Linked DNA regions of Homo sapiens: region 1 is linked to region 2. A link means that fine-mapping ties the variant in region 2 to the expression of a gene that starts in the linked region. Tissue or cell type: whole blood. Region 2 holds a variant in brackets; the other region holds the start of a gene. All regions are shown on one strand. Distances are from middle to middle.

What was found. PIP is the estimated chance that this variant, and not a neighbour inherited with it, causes the effect.
Region 1: CASP5 starts here. The variant in region 2 is fine-mapped to the expression of CASP5 in whole blood (TOPMed, PIP above 0.99).

Annotation. Positions count from the first base shown.
Region 1 is chr11:105,019,006-105,027,005 of GRCh38, forward strand. CASP5 (caspase 5) reads right to left here and starts at 4,163. Exons shown (of 10, transcript NM_004347.5): 1 at 4,125-4,163. The coding sequence starts at 4,131. CASP1 (caspase 1) reads right to left here. Exons shown (of 9, transcript NM_001257118.3): 8 at 7,837-7,946; 9 at 6,503-7,351. The coding sequence ends at 7,253. The region is part of intron 1 of LOC124902742 (a long non-coding RNA gene); the gene reads left to right.
Region 2 is chr11:104,983,461-104,991,727 of GRCh38, forward strand. No RefSeq gene overlaps it. Among named protein-coding and RNA genes, the nearest start is that of CASP4, 19 kb to the left of the region's middle. The variant C/T (reference allele first, on the strand shown) is at 3,478.

The sequences.
Region 1 (8,000 bases), 35 kb after region 2:
CAAAACCACTCAACTACATGGAAACTGAACAACCTGCTCCTGAATGACTACTGGGTACATAATGAAATGAAGGCAGAAATAAAGATGTTCTTTGAAACCAACGAGAACAAAGATACAACATACCAGAATCTCTGGGATGCATTCAAAGCAGTGTGTAGAGGGAAATTTATAGCACTAAATGCCCACAAGAGAAAGCAGGAAAGATCCAAAATTGACACCCTAACATCACAATTAAAGGAACTAGAAAAGCAAGAGCAAACACATTCAAAAGCTAGCAGAAGGCAAGAAATAACTAAAATCAGAGCAGAACTGAAGGAAATAGAGACACAAAAAACCCTTCAAAAAATTAATGAATCCAGGAGCTGGTTTTTTGAAAGGATCAACAAAATTCATAGACCGCTAGCAAGACTAATAAAGAAAAAAAGAGAGAAGAATCAAATAGACGCAATAAAAAATGATAATGGGGATATCACCACCGATCCCACAGAAATACAAACTACCATCAGAGAATACTACAAACACCTCTACGCAAATAAACTAGAAAATCTAGAAGAAATGGATAAGTTTCTGGACACATACACTCTCCCAAGACTAAACCAGGAAGAAGTTGAATCTCTGAATGGACCAATAACAGGATCTGAAATTGTGGCAATAATCAAAAGCTTACCAACTAAAAAGAGTCCAGGACCAGATGGATTCACAGCCGAATTCTACCAGAGGTACAAGGAGGAACTGGTACCATTCCTTCTGAAACTATTCCAATCAATAGAAAAAGAGGGAATCCTCCCTAACTCATTTTATGAGGCCAGCATCATCCTGATACCAAAGCCGGGCAGAGACACAACCAAAAAAGAGAATTTTAGACCAATATCCTTGATGAACATTGATGCAAAAATCCTCAATAAAATACTGGCAAACCGAATCTAGCAGCACATCAAAAAGCTTATCCACCATGATCAAGGGGGCTTCATCCCTGGGATGCAAGGCTGGTTCAATATACGCAAATCAATAAATATAATCCAGCATATAAACAGAACCAAAGACAAAAACCACGTGATTATCTCAATAGATGCAGAAAAGTTCTTTGACAAAATTCAACAACGCTTCATGCTAAAAACTCTCAATAAATTAGGTATTGATGGGATGTATTTCAAAATAATAAGAGCTATCTATGACAAACCCACAGCCAATATCATACTGAATGGGCAAAAACTGGAAGCATTCCCTTTGAAAACTGGCACAAGACAGGGATGCCCTCTCTCACCACTCCTATTCAACATAGTGTTGGAAGTTCTGGCCAGGGCGATCAGGCAGGAGAAGAAAATAAAGGGTATTCAATTAGGAAAAGTGGAAGTCAAATTGTCCCTGTTTGCAGACGACATGATTGTATATCTAGAAAACCCCATTGTCTCAGCCCAAAATCTCCTTAAGCTGATAAGCAACTTCAGCAAAGTCTCAGGATACAAAATCAATGTACAAAAATCACAAGCATTCTTATACACCAACAACAGACAAACAGAGAGCCAAATCATGAGTGAACTCCCATTCACAATTGCTTCAAAGAGAATAAAATACCTAGGAATCCAACTTACAAGGGATGTGAAGGACCTCTTCAAGGAGAACTACAAACCACTGCTCAAGGAAATAAAAGAGGGTACAAACAAATGGAAGAACATTCCATGCTCATGGGTAGGAAGAATCAATATCGTGAAAAATGGCCATACTGCCCAAGATAATTTACAGATTCAATGCCATCGCCATCAAGCTACCAATGACTTTCTTCACAGAATTGGAAAAAACTACTTTACAGTTCATATGGAACCAAAAAAGAGCCCGCATTGCCACGTCAATCCTGAGCCAAAAGAACAAAGCTGGAGGCATCACACTACCTGACTTCAAACTATACTACAAAGCTACAGTAACCAAAACAGCATGGTACTGGTACCAACACAGAGATATAGATCAATGGAACAGAACAGAGCCCTCAGAAATAATGCCGCATATCTACAACTATCTGATCTTTGACAAACCTGAGACAAACAAGCAATGCGGAAAGGATTCCCTATTTAATAAATGGTGCTGGGAAAACTGGCTAGCCATATGTAGAAAGCTGAAACTGGATCCCTTCCTTACACCTTATACAAAAATTAATTCAAGATGGATTAAAGACTTAAAAGTTAGACCTAAAACCATAAAAACCCTAGAAGAAAACCTAGACATTACCATTCAGGACATAGGCATGGGCAAGGACTTCATGTCTAAAACACCAAAAGCAATGGCAACAGAAGCCAAAATTGACAAATGGGATCTAATTAAACTAAAGAGCTTCTACACAGCAAAAGAAACTACCGTCAGAGTGAACAGGCAACCTACAAAATGGGAGAAAATTTTCGCAACCTACTCGTCTGACAAAGGGCTAATATCCAGAATCTACAATGAACTCAAACAAATTTACAAGAAAAAAACAAACAACCCCATCAAAAAGTGGGCGAAGGACATGAACAGACACTTCTCAAAAGAAGACATTTATGCAGCCAAAAAACACATGAAAAAGTGCTCACCATCACTGGCCATCAGAGAAATGCAAATCAAAACCACAATGAGATACCATCTCACACGAGTTAGAATGGCAATCATTAAAAAGTCAGGAAACAACAGGTGCTGGAGAGGATGTGGAAAAATAGGAACACTTTTACACTGTTGGTGGGACTGTAAACTAGTTCAACCATTGTGGAAGTCAGTGTGGCGATTCCACAGGGATCTAGAACTAGAAATACCATTTGACCCAGCCATCCCTTTACTGGGTATATACCCAAAGGACTATAAATCATGCTGCTATAAAGACACATGCACACGTATGTTTATTGTGGCATTATTCACAATAGCAAAGACTTGGAACCAACCCAAATGTCCAACAATGATAGACTGGATTAAGAAAATGTGGCACATATACACCATGGAATATTATGCAGCCATAAAAAATGATGAGTTCATGTCCTTTGTAGGGACATGGATGAAATTGGAAATCATCATTCTCAGTAAACTATCACAAGAACAAAAAACCAAACACCGCATATTCTCACTCATAGGTGGGAACTGAACAATGAGAACACATGGACACAGGAAGGGGAACATCACACTCTGGAGCCTGTTGTGGGGTGGGGGGAGGGGGGAGGGATAGCATTGGGAGGTATACCTAATGCTAGATGACGAGTTAGTGGGTGCAGCCCACCAGCATGTCACATGTATACATATGTAACTAACCTGCACATTGTGCACATGTACCCTAAAACTTAAAGTATAATAATAATAAATAAATAAATTAAAGAAAAAAAAAGACTGCAGATTATTCATATATGTTATAAGGTTTAGAAAGCACTGATCTATTCCAGTTTCTTCCTTTTTCCAGTGAGGAGAATGAAACCAAAGACGCAATATGACCTGCTGGAATACGAGCTGCTTAAGTAGCCCAGGACTCCAACTCATAGGCTTTTTTAGCTTCTGTGTATAAGACAGTTGGCCTGAAAGTAGTGTGCAGTATGGACTGAAGGGTTAAGTTTTTGGGAGTGGGAAGACAGTTAAAAGTCTATGATAGCAACCTAAGATATATTACATTATAAGAGTTAGTACCAGGACTACATAGAAAGGTGGAAAAATGCAATCACTTTAAACAGACCAATAAGATAATTCAAGATAAGAGATGACAACACGTTGAGAACACAGAGGCTCTCAGATCTGATTGTGGGGAGAAGGTTCATAGTCTGGAGGATTAATTTGGAATCAAGAGGAAGCAGAGAAGATTTCAGAGTGCATTTAGAAATTTCCGGAGTTTTCTCACACAAATAACTTACTCTGTCTTTCCTTACTCTCTCTTTGATTACCAGAAGCTGAAAGAAAGGAATTAACCTTTTTCTGGCTTGAAAACATCTAGAGAACATACTCTCCTTCAGTGTCTCTACACAGTCTCAGGATTCAAACTACATACCACCAATAAGAGAAAGATTCAGCATGCACACTATTGGTTGATTTCCCTTTTGGTATTTCTGCCTGTCACATAGCAATAAATCAAGATTTTTCTAAGACCTGAGTACCCAGCTGCTAGTCAGAAAAGGGCCCAGACTCACCAGCCATAGCTAACAGCCTCTGTCTCTTTGTACAGCACTGGAAAGTGCCTCAGACTCAGAGATAAAATACACTAGGTACTTCCTTATTGCAGGGAGTGGGGACAAGTGATTACAGATTATGGGAAGTTGCTTCTGGGAACCTATAGTTTCATCATTGGGAAGTGCCCTGTAGTAAGCAAATTGGCTTTCTATTCTTGAACTCTAGATTCTTCCCTGGGGAAAAAAAATGCAAATGACAAAACATTGTTTTGTGGGTTGAAACCTCAGCCTGGTTTTCTTTTTCCTTTTCTCTCTCCATAGCCCCACATCTTCTTTTATTCATCCCTCTCTTCTGATCTGTCAGTTTTTCTACCTCTGCTCGTCTAAAAACACATGTCCTGAATGAGTAAAATCTAACTAGTTTCCTTGCATCTTCCCATAAGAATTAACCAAATATTTTGTATATCTTGGGTTTCTTTATTTTTCATTTCAATTTTTATTTGAGTTTCAGGGGTACATATGCAGGTTTGTTACAAGAGTATATTAGGTGATGCAGAGGTTTGTAGTACAATTTAACCTATTACCTAGGTAGTGAGAATAGCACCCAGTACATAGTTTTTCGGCTCTTGCCTTCTTCCTTCATTCCTCCCTCTGGTATTTCCCTGTGTCTGTTATTCCCGTCTTTATGTCCATGTGTACACAATATTTAGCTAGAACTTACAAGTGAGATTATGTGATATTTGGTTTTCTGTTTCTGCATTAATTTGCTTAGAATAATGGCCTCCAGTTGCATCCATGTTGCTGCAAAGGGCAGGGTTTCATTTTTATGGCTGTGTAACATTCCATAGTAGCAGTGTACCACATTTTTTTAAATCCAATCCACCATTGATGGACACCTGGGTTGATTCTATTATTTTGGCTACAGTGAATAGTGCTGCGACAAACATTTGAAAGCACATGTCTTTTTGATAGAACAGTACATTTTCCTTTGAGGATTCAGTCAGTAATGGGATGCTTGGACAAATGATAGTTCTTTTTTTAGTTATTTGGTAAATCTCCAAACTGCTTTTCAAAAAGATGGATGCATCACATTACTGGACTTCAAGCTATGCTAGAAGTCTACAGTAACCACAACAGCAAGGTATTCGTACAAAAAAAACAGACACAAAGCCCAATGGAACAGAATAGAGAACCCCAAAATAAAGCCACACACCTATAACCAACTGATACTCAACAAAGTCAACAACAACAGCAAAAAGAAACAAGGAAAGGATTGTTTATTCAATAAATGTATTTCTTGTTTAAACTGTGCTGAGGAATCATGATGGAGTCTTCTCCTCCCCATCTCCCTGTCATCTTACGCTTTGATTGGAGACAGTTCTGAAGGAATCCTCTTATCTACTTCCTGGAATGCTGTTCTTCAACTGACTAAAACTGCTTTAACAGTTAATTTTTACTTAGGGTGGCAATTCACTTCTCCTTTTTGATATTCTCTGAGCAAAGACTGATCACAGATGTAGTCTCAGGTTGTAGTAGAGTATGCATGATAACACAGAAGAGATATGCCCAGAGAAACAGTTAATAAAAGGTAAAAAAAAAAAAAAAGAGAGAGAGAGAGAGACTGTAATGTGTTCAACTATGAAGGTGTTTAAGAAGTCAGAAATTAACTCTCATTTAATCTGTTAAATATTAGAAAAAAACATATTTGCAAGTAAGGGGTAGTTCTTCGAATCCTCCCTAAATCTTAACATCCCTGAGTGCATGATTTCACCCCAAACTCGTTTTCTCTGCACCATGCCAGGACTTCACTGTGCACACCATGCATCCTAGAGTTTCTTCAGGGTGTCAGGCACCATCTGCCAAGCGCTTCATTTTGGATGGCTGTCTTATCTTTTCAAGAAGTCTGTGAACTACTGAGGGTTGATTCAAAACTTACTTTGTCTTAAATACTTTTGCAAAGGGTAGAAACATGCAAGTTCATGGATTTGTCAGTAGCAAACTGTGGGATTTGGGAAAAGTTCTTTATCACACTACACTGTCGCTGTCATAACTAGCTGTCTTCCCCCGTCTCTCCTGCTGAGCTCTAAATTATTTGAAGTCAGATACCTGCTGTAACTTATATCACATCCCCAAAGCAGAAAGCCCAGCAAACGATTTTTCTTTTTTTAAAAATGGCACAAAATAAATTTTTGTTCAAGAAAGTAATTAATAACATTGCTATGTTTGTAAGTCTGATTTTCTTTTTTAAATTTTTATATTTTATTTTACTTTAAGTTCTGGGAAAGAAAGGTGCCAATAGCCAGTTTGGGTCTGACAGATTAAGTCAAACACTCTAAATTCCTTAGTCACTCTAAGTTCCAGTCCCTGTTTCTTCAGTGTGGGAGAAAAATGAGGACAAGTTTTCATTTTTCTACCAGATTTATTATTTCAAAAAAGTTTATTATTCAGCAGACATAATTCCAAAAACCTTTACAGAAGGATCTCTTCACTTCCTATGAGAAAAAGAAATAATTAAAAAAAAAAACATAGGAAAGAATTTTGTTAAAGACATGCAAGTTATAAAGTTATACCACCAATGGGAACATACACAATTTTAAAAGGAAAGACCACATGCTATGTTTAAATATACCCTGCTGAGGTGAAGGAGAGAAACATCCAAAAGTGAGGGTTTGTAGTCTTACGGCCACTTCTAGGCCAATATCAGATGAATCTCAAAAGGGGTCTAAATGAAAAACTTTGGGAGAAGAGCAACGTGCTCTGCACTGACCAGAAGAAAGGCATTACTTCAGTATTTTCTGTATATGGCTTGATTATCCCTTATCCAAAATGCATGCTACCAGAAGTATTTCAAATTTCAGATATTTTTGTATATTGGAATTCAGCTGTATACTTACTGGTTTAGCATCCCTAATCCAAAAACCTATAATTTGAAATGTTTCAATAAACATTTCCTTTGAATATCATGTGGGCGCTCACACAGTGTTGGATTTTAGAGCATTTCAAAATTCAAATTTTTGGATTAAGGATTCTCAGCCTGTAAACCTAGAGTTCTTGACTCAAATGGACTTTCAGTACCCTTTCCTCAACCTTCCCACACTCCCGACCATACACATGTACCTGCCCACAGACATTCATACAGTTTCCTTATTTTAATGTCCTGGGAAGAGGTAGAAACATCTTGTCAAAGTCACTCTTTCAGTGGTGGGCATCTGCGCTCTACCATCTGGCTGCTCAAATGAAAATCGAACCTAAAAGAGTAAGGAAAGTCTGTAGCCCTTTTTTTTGCTGAGTTTTTTTTTTCAAGAATTTCTTGAGTTATGCCAAAAAACTACAACAAATATAGCAAAATAAGTGACAAAAACAAAAAGTACTTCCATCTGCAACAAGTATAACCATATATGTATGTAAGCATTGAATGACCCTCCTCAGGGCATTTTAAATCTGCTGCTGGATCTAATAGCCATGAGAGACACAGGTAAATTAGAGTCCATTCATTTGTCTCTGCAGGGCAGGAGCGGGGTGAAACTAAATGATTGTTTTCTCAAGGCTGTGGGTCTTAATAGATTGGATTAGGCTCCTGGGTTTGTCCACTCTCCAAAGAACTCCAAAACTCTTTTGGAAAGAAGAGCATTATTGGAAGATAAACTTGTCTGGATCTGCTTTCTATGCTTCCAATTGCAATAGCCAAGCATTCAGGGAAGTAGAGTGAAAATAGCATCCACTAGCATCTTACCTTGCGGAAAATTTCCTCCACATCACAGGAACAGGCATATTCTTGCATATGTTCAATGAGTCTTCCAATAAAAACAGAGCCCATTGTGGGATGTCTCCAAGAAACATTATCTATGGATAAAGCACATTTCAAATCTCAAGACTGGCTCTTGCCTGAAGAAAGAG
Region 2 (8,267 bases):
ATAGCAGATGTTCAGCACAATGCCTTAAATAAATTGTTTTTAATAATGGACAAAATATAGAGGGTAAAAAAGCACTTTTTTTAAAAAAAAGAATCAGACAATTTTGGTTTGAGTTCTATTTATCAGTAGGATATCAATCAAAATATATAGGCTGCAAATATCACCAGGTTTACTATTAACTTTCTGCCCAATGTAGTCAACAGGTAGCTCTGATCATTGTACTTTTTAGAGAACTGGAATAATGGAAGATCCATTTTGACACATGGCTTTACCATGGCAGAGAAATGGTAAATAACAAATGGTGTTCTGGTTTCCAACCCATTATCTCAAATGGAAGCTCACATACTACCTCTGCTTATGTGGCATTAGTGAAAGTAAGTTATGTAGCTACAGCAACCTTGAAAGGAGATGGGTACAATCCTACCACATTCCAAGAGGCAGGCCCATGAGATGAGTACCTTTATTTCTCCCATTTTACAGAAGAAAATCAGACTTCAGGCTGTAGAATAACCTCTGAAATCACACAATTGGAAAGTAGCCAAGCTGGAATTTTCATCAATGTGTCTAAGAAATGAAAACCTATGCTTTTTGGCACAGCATTTCTTTACCTTTTCATGTGAAGTAGGCTTTACAGTAGATGCTATGTGCTATTGTCTGAATCTTTATTTTCCTTCTAAAATTCATATGGTTAAAATCCTAACCCCCAAGGTTATGGCATTTGGAGGTGGGGCCTTTGGGAGGTGATTAGGTTATGAGAGCAGAGCCTTCATAACTAGAATAAGTGCTTTTATAAAAGAGACCCCAGAGAGGTAGCTCTTTACTACTACCATGTGAGGACAAAGTTATAAGATGCCATACAGAAATTAGAAAGTGGGCCCTCACCAGATCTAGATCTTCCAATGCCTTGATCCTGGACTTCCCAGCCTCTAGAATTGTGAGAAATAAATTTCAATCATTTATAAGCTACTCAGTTTATGGCATTTTGTTCCAGCTGTCCAAATGGAATAAAATAGTAGATACTAACAAATACTAGCTCTTGTTATCCTTAACCCTTGTATTTTCTACTGATGATAATGATAATTAAGAATGTAAGAATTAAATAACTATACAAAACAAAACACAAAAGAAAGAGAAAATTTTATCTTCTTAGGACAATGTGTGTTCATCTCTACCTAAAAGAAGGTTGGTAGACTGTCTTTTTGGAGATATTGCTTGTTAGTAATGAATATACTATAGTCCATAATGTAAGGTATGCCCATTATCAGTGGAGATTTTAACATGCTTAAGAAACCATTATATAAGTCCAAAATATTAATTTAGTTTTGAGAAATATAACTTTTATAAGAAATAGAATATTTGCATTAATATAGTGAGAGTATTTTCTTTCAGCAACCTGGCCAAAAGTATAATCAGAAGAATGCTAAGTGGACATAGAATCAAATGAGGGAGAATGAGATAAATCAATTTGTAATATCATCAAGCTAATAACTCCAACCTAAGGGAAAAACTTCTGCTTATGGATGAAAGTATCAAAGTCCGTTGATTACACAACCCTTTGCATACTTTCACCATCACTAAATGCGTTGTTATCATTTGGCTAAGGCTCTCTCCCACAAAGTGAAGAGGAATGGGTACTGTCACCCCTGCCTCTGTGACTCTTTTTTCTTATTTCAATGTATGTCTAGACATAGACTTTCCTCGAATGTCTGCTTATGTTCCTTCAGTTTGCCAAGTCTCTTAGGCTTCATACTTGTTATTAATATAACATTTCATACCTTTGCACTATCATATTTATTGATTTCATATTTAAATTTCAGAATAAAGTAATTTTCCACTGTTTTCAGACTTACTAGGATAATCTCATATATGATAAGAATAACAATGATGATGATACAGAACCAAGTTTAAATATTACTCCAGAATTACTTCCAGGGGCTTGCAATGTCAGTGGATGAAATATGTGTCAAAAATTGGAGCAAAATAATGTTTTTCCTAATTAATAAGTGCATATTCTTTTTACTTTGAAATTTCCTGTATAGATCATTTCAAAGGTGGTTTCCCAAACTCAGTGAGCAATCACAGTACCTGCTTTTAACTTCTTATTGCTGAAAGAGGCATTGAAGTGGGTCAGAGAGACAGTCTTGAATGGTAGACACCAATCTTCCCCTATCCCCTGGCAGAGGCCATGCAGCAGTATGGAGAGTCTGTGTGTTGGAGGAGGGAGAGTACAGCATCTGAGGGACATTACATTGAACTCAGTGTTGCATGTCATAGTTGAGAACAAAGCTGTGATAGGCTCAGCCAGTGCCTGTGCATGGTGGGAGCATTTGAACCAGCCCTAGCCAGAGAGGAATCATCTATCCCAGTGGTTGAAACTTGAGTTGCTCAGCAAGCCTCGTCACTGCTAGCCAAAGTGCTCTGGGGTCCTTGGTAGACTTGAAAGGCAGTCTAGGATTCAAGAACTACAATTACTAGGGAACTCCTTGTGCTGGGCTAGGCTCAGAGTCATTAACCTGGAAAGTTACTAGCCAGGTGGCTAAGGGGGTGTTTGTCTCACCTCCCGGCAAACCCCAGGCTGCACAGCTCACAGCAATGAAAGTGATTTCTTTTTTCTGCTTAAGAAAAGGAGAGAGAAGAGTAAAGAAGACTTTGTATTGCACCTTGGATATTAGCTCACCCATAGTAGGACAGGGCACCAGGTAAAGATGTGAGATACCCACCCCAGGCCCTGGCTCTCAGATGACATTTCTAGACATACCCTAGCCAATCGAGAACCCAGTGACATAAAGGGAAGGATCCAGTCCTGGCAGAATTTGTCACCTGCTGACTAAAGAGTCTTTGTGTCCTTAATAATCAATACTCAGGTAGTATGCAATGCGCCTTGGGCTCTAAGATGTCCTGAATTCAGCTGTGATCCAACACATTCCCAGCTGTGGTGACTATGCTGAAAGACTCCTACAGTTTGATGAAAGCAGGGGAGAAAGTAAAGGGGACTTTGCCTTGCACTTTAGGTACCAGCTTGGCCACAGTGGGTTAGAGCAATAATCAAGGTCTTAGGGTCTCTGAGTCTAGGCCTAGGCTCTTGGATAGCATTTCTGGACCTGTCATGGGCCACAGGGGAGCCCACTGCCCTGAAGGGTGAGTCTCAGGCCTGGTAGCATTAATCACAAACTGACAGATGAGCCCTGAGGCTTTAAGTGAACATCAGTGGTGGCCTGGTAGAATGCCCCATGGGCCTGTGGTGCTGGTGGCCACAGGGAAAGTCTCCTCTGCCTGTGGGAAGGGAAGGGAAAAGCAGGAAGGACTTTGTATTGTGGTTTAAATGCCAGCTTAGCTACAGTAGAATAGAACAACAGGCAAATTACTAAGATTTTTTACTCCAATTCCTGGCTCCCAAATAGCATTTCTGGGCCTGTAGAGAACCTGGGGGAGCTCACCACCTTGAATGGAAGAACACAAACCTGTCTGGCTTTGCCA[C/T]CTGCTGATCACAGAGCCCTAGGGCCTTGAGTGAACAGAGGTTGTAGCCAGTTAGTGATTACAGAGCATCTTGGGAGAGACCCAGTGCTGTGCTGGCTTCAGGTCTGAAATAGCGGTGGTGGTGACAGGGGTGCTTGTGTCTCTCCACCCCAGTTCCAGATGGCTCAGCACAGAAAGAGAGACTCTTTTGTTTGGGACAAAATAAGGAAAAAGAACAAGCGCCCATCTGATAATCTAGAGAATTCTTCCAAAATTCTATGTCTGTAACTGTCCAGAGAATTCAAAATAGCTGTTTTAATGAAACTCAAAGAAATTCAAGATAACACAGTGAAGGAACTCAGAATTCTATCAGGTAAATTCAACAAAGAGATTGAAATAATTAGAATGAATCAAGCAGAAACTCTGGAATTGAACAATATAATTGATATACTAAAGAATGCGTCAGAGTCCCTTAATAGTAGAATTGATCAAGCAGAATAAAGAATTAATGAGCTTGAAGACAGTTTATTTGGAAGTATACAGCCACAGGAAATGTAGGAAGGAAAAAAAACAATAAAGCATGACTACAAGATCTAGAAAAGAGGCTCAAAGGGATAAATCTAAAAGTTATTGGCATTAAAGATGAAGTAGAGAAAGAGATAGGGATAGAAAGTTTATTTCAAAGGAGTAATATCAGAAAACTTCCCAAGCCTAAAGAAAAATATCAACCTTCAAGTACAAGAAAGTTATAGAACACCAAGCAGATTTAACCCAAAGAAGACTACCTCAAGACATTTGATAATCAAACTTCCGAAGGTCAAAGATAAAGACAGATTTCTAAAAGCAGCAAGAGAAAGAAACAAATAATATACTCCAATATATCTAGCAGCAGACTTTTCAGTGGAAACCTTACAGGCCAGAAGAGAGTGGCGTGACATAATTAAAATGCCAAAGGAAAAAACTTTGACCCTAAAAAAGCACATCCAGTGAAAATGTCCTTCAAGCAAAAAAGATGAATAAAAACTTTCCCAGACAAACAAAAAAAAGATGAGGGCTTTTATCAATGCCAGACATGTTCTACAAGAAATGCTAAACCAAGTTCTTCAATCTGAAAAAAAGGACTTAAATGAGCAAGAAAGAATCATTTGAAGATACAAAACTCACTGGTAATAGTAAGAGCACAGAAAAACACAGAATATTATAACGCTGTAATTGTGATGTGTAAACATCTCTTAATTAGAAAGACTAAACCAATCAAAAATAATAACTACGACTACTTTTCAAGATGCAGACAGTACATGAAGACATCAAGAGAAACAACAAAAAGTTAAAAATTGAGATGATGCAACTAAAGTATACAGTTTTTATTAGTTTTCTTTTTCCATGGTTGTTTGTTTATGCAATCAGTATTTAGCTGTTATCAGTTTAAAATAATGAGTTATAAGATAGTATTTGCAGACCTCATGGCATCCATACAATGGATACTCAAAAAGTAAAAAGCAAAAAATTGAATCATACTACAAGAGAAAATCACCTTTGCTAAAAGCAAGACAGAAGAAAAGGAAAAAAGGAAGATAAGATCATAAAACAAGCAGACAACAAATAACAAAATGGCAGGAGTAATAAAAGACATTTAAATTAAAAAGAAAGAAGTCAAATTATCTTTGTTTGCAGATCATATTTTCTTCTTATTTGGAAATCGTAAAGACTCCACCAGAAAACTATTAGAACAGATAAACAAATTTGATAAAGTTACAGGAGATAAAATCAATATACAAAAATCTGTAGCATTTCTACATGCCAACACTAAACAATTCAAAAAAGAAATTTAAAAAGTAATCCCATTTATAGCAGCCTTAAATAAATGCCTAGGATTTAACTTCACCAAACAAGGGAAAGACCTCTACAATGAAAACTATAATACACTGATGAAAGAAATTGAAGAGGACGCAAAAATAAAATGATATTCCATGCTCATGAATGGAAAGATCTAATATTGTTAAAATGTACAAACTACCCAAAGCAACCTACAGACTGAATGCCATCTCTGTCCAAATGCCATCTCTGTCCAATAAAAAGAATGCCCAACAACATTCTTTACAGAAATAGGTGAAATGAGTCTAAAATTTATATTGAACTGCAAAAGACCCAGAATAGCCAAAGCTATCCTGAGCAAAAGGAACAAAACTAGAGGAATCACATTACATAATTCCAAATTATACTACAGAACTATAATAATTAAAACAGCATGGTACTGGCATAAAAACAGATGCATAGACCAATGGAACAAAATAGAGAACACAGAAACAAATTTACACACCTACAGTGAGCTCGTTTTTGACAAAGGTGTCAAGAATATACCCTGGGGAAAAGATAGCCTTTTCAATAAATGGTGCTGGGAAAACAGGATATCCATTTGCAGAAGAATGAAACTATAACCTTATCTCTTGCCACATACAAAAACAAAATCAAAACTGATGAAAGATTTAAATCTAAGACCTCAAATTATGAAACTACTAAAATAAAACATTAGGGAAACTATTAGAACATTGGTGTGGGCAAAAATTTTTTGAGTAATACCCCACAAGCACAAGAAACAAAAGCAAAAATGGACAAATAGAATCATATCATGTTAAAAAGCATCTGTGGAATAAAGAAAATAATCAAGGTGAAAGACAACCAACAGCATGGGAGAAAATATTTGCAAACTCTCCAAATGAAAAGGGATTAATAACCAAAATTTATAAGGAGCTGAAACAACTCTATAAGAAAAAAATCTAATGATCTGATTTAAAAATGGGTAAAAGAAAAAAATAAAAATGGGTAGAAGATTTGGATAGATATTTCTCAAAAGAAAACATAAAAACAACAAACAGGCTTATGAAAAGATATTCAGCACCATTGATGATCAGAGAAATGCAAATCAAAACTCCAATGATACATCATCTCACCCCAGTTAAAATGACTTTTATCCAAATGATAGGCAATAAACAGTGCTGGTGAGGATGCAGAGAAAAGGAAACATTCATACACTGTTGGGAATGTAAATTAGTACAACCACTATGAAGAAGAGTTTGGAGCCTTCTCAAAAAAAACTAAAGATAAAGCTACCATATAATCCAGCAATTCCACTTCGGGGTATGTAGCCAGAAGAAAGAAAATCAGTATATTGAAGAGACATCTGCACTCCCATATTTTTTTGCAGCACTGTTTACATCAGCTAAGATTTGGAAGCAGTCTAAGTGTCCATCAACAGATGAATGGATAAAAAAAATATGGTACATATACACAATGCAGTACTATTCAGCCATAAGAAAGACTGAGATTCTGTCATTTGCAACAACATGGATGGAATGGGAGATCATTGCATTAAGCAAAACAAGCCAGCCACAGAAAGACAAACATCACATGTTTTCATGTATTTGTGGAATCTAAAAATAAAAACAATTGAACTTATGAGTATAGAGAGTAGAAAGTTGATTACCAGAAGCTGGAAGGGTAGTGGAGGGTTGCAGGAGGAGGTGGGAATGGTTAATAGGTACAAAATTTATTAGAATGAATGAATAAGACCTAGTAATTGACAGCACCCCAGGTGACTATAGTCAAAATAATTTAATTGCGCATTAAAAAATAACTAAAAGGGGATAATTTGATTATAACACAAAGGATAAATGCTTGAGGGTATAAATATTCTATTTTTTCATGATGTGATTATTATACATTGAATGTCTGTATCAATATATCCCATGTATCTCATAAGTGCATTCATTATTTGTGATAACACCAAAATTAAAAGTTAAAAAGCATCTCATACTTTTCTCTGTTGTTATACATATTCTCCAACTAAAAATGATGGTGGGATTATGGATCAAAAGATTACAAGGCAAAAGATTACAGGGACCATGTCTTTAAAATTAAAACTTTCAAAATATGTGTAAATACTTGCTAATGTGAGTATATGTCAACACTATTTACTTCTTTCACTGGATGTTAGGGAAAAAAGGAACGGGGTGGATCCTTCTGGGTAAAGGAAAATAGTTTCACTAAATTCTTGTCTTTATTTCAGAAAATGCCTGCCCTTCAAGGCAGATAAGAGAGTATTTTTTTAATATATTTTAAGTCTAATTTTCCCCTTTTAAGTCAAATTCTTCTTTTCTCTTTGGGTGACATTACTGATTATTATTATCTCCAATGGAAGATAGCTACATATATGAATGGAGGGAAAGAGAAGTCGTTTGGAAATGAAAGACTAACAGAAAAAGAACTCATATTATTTGAACCCAATTCATTTTTACTTTGATTCCTAGTTACGAATTCTAATTCTATCCAACCTTAGTTTTAAGAGTCTTGGCAAAGAATTGTAACACAGGCAATTTTGGCTTCCTGTATGCCATTCAACCTGCTGTCCATTCTGCAAGCCATCTTTCTTAATTATAAATCTGACTATAAATAACGCCCCTGTTTAATAATATTCTAAAATAATTTACACTGTCCCCAGGACAAATAATTACTCCTATATATTTCATCAGTACATCTAATCTTTTCAAACCATACTTCAACTTTTACATTGCAACCATACAATTTTTTTAATTCCCAAATTTGTCTTATCGTTTTGCACTCTCAATTTTGGTGCGTGATTTTTCCTCCCCCTTATAAAATTCTCTTTTTGATATAACAAATTTATCATAATAAAAGCATGCACACTTACATGCAAACATAAGTCTCTGTGTTCTGTTTTCCTGTCAATTTTTAACACCGTTAATAACTCAAATTAAACTCCTATTTTTCATTGTACCACCACTAGTCTCTAA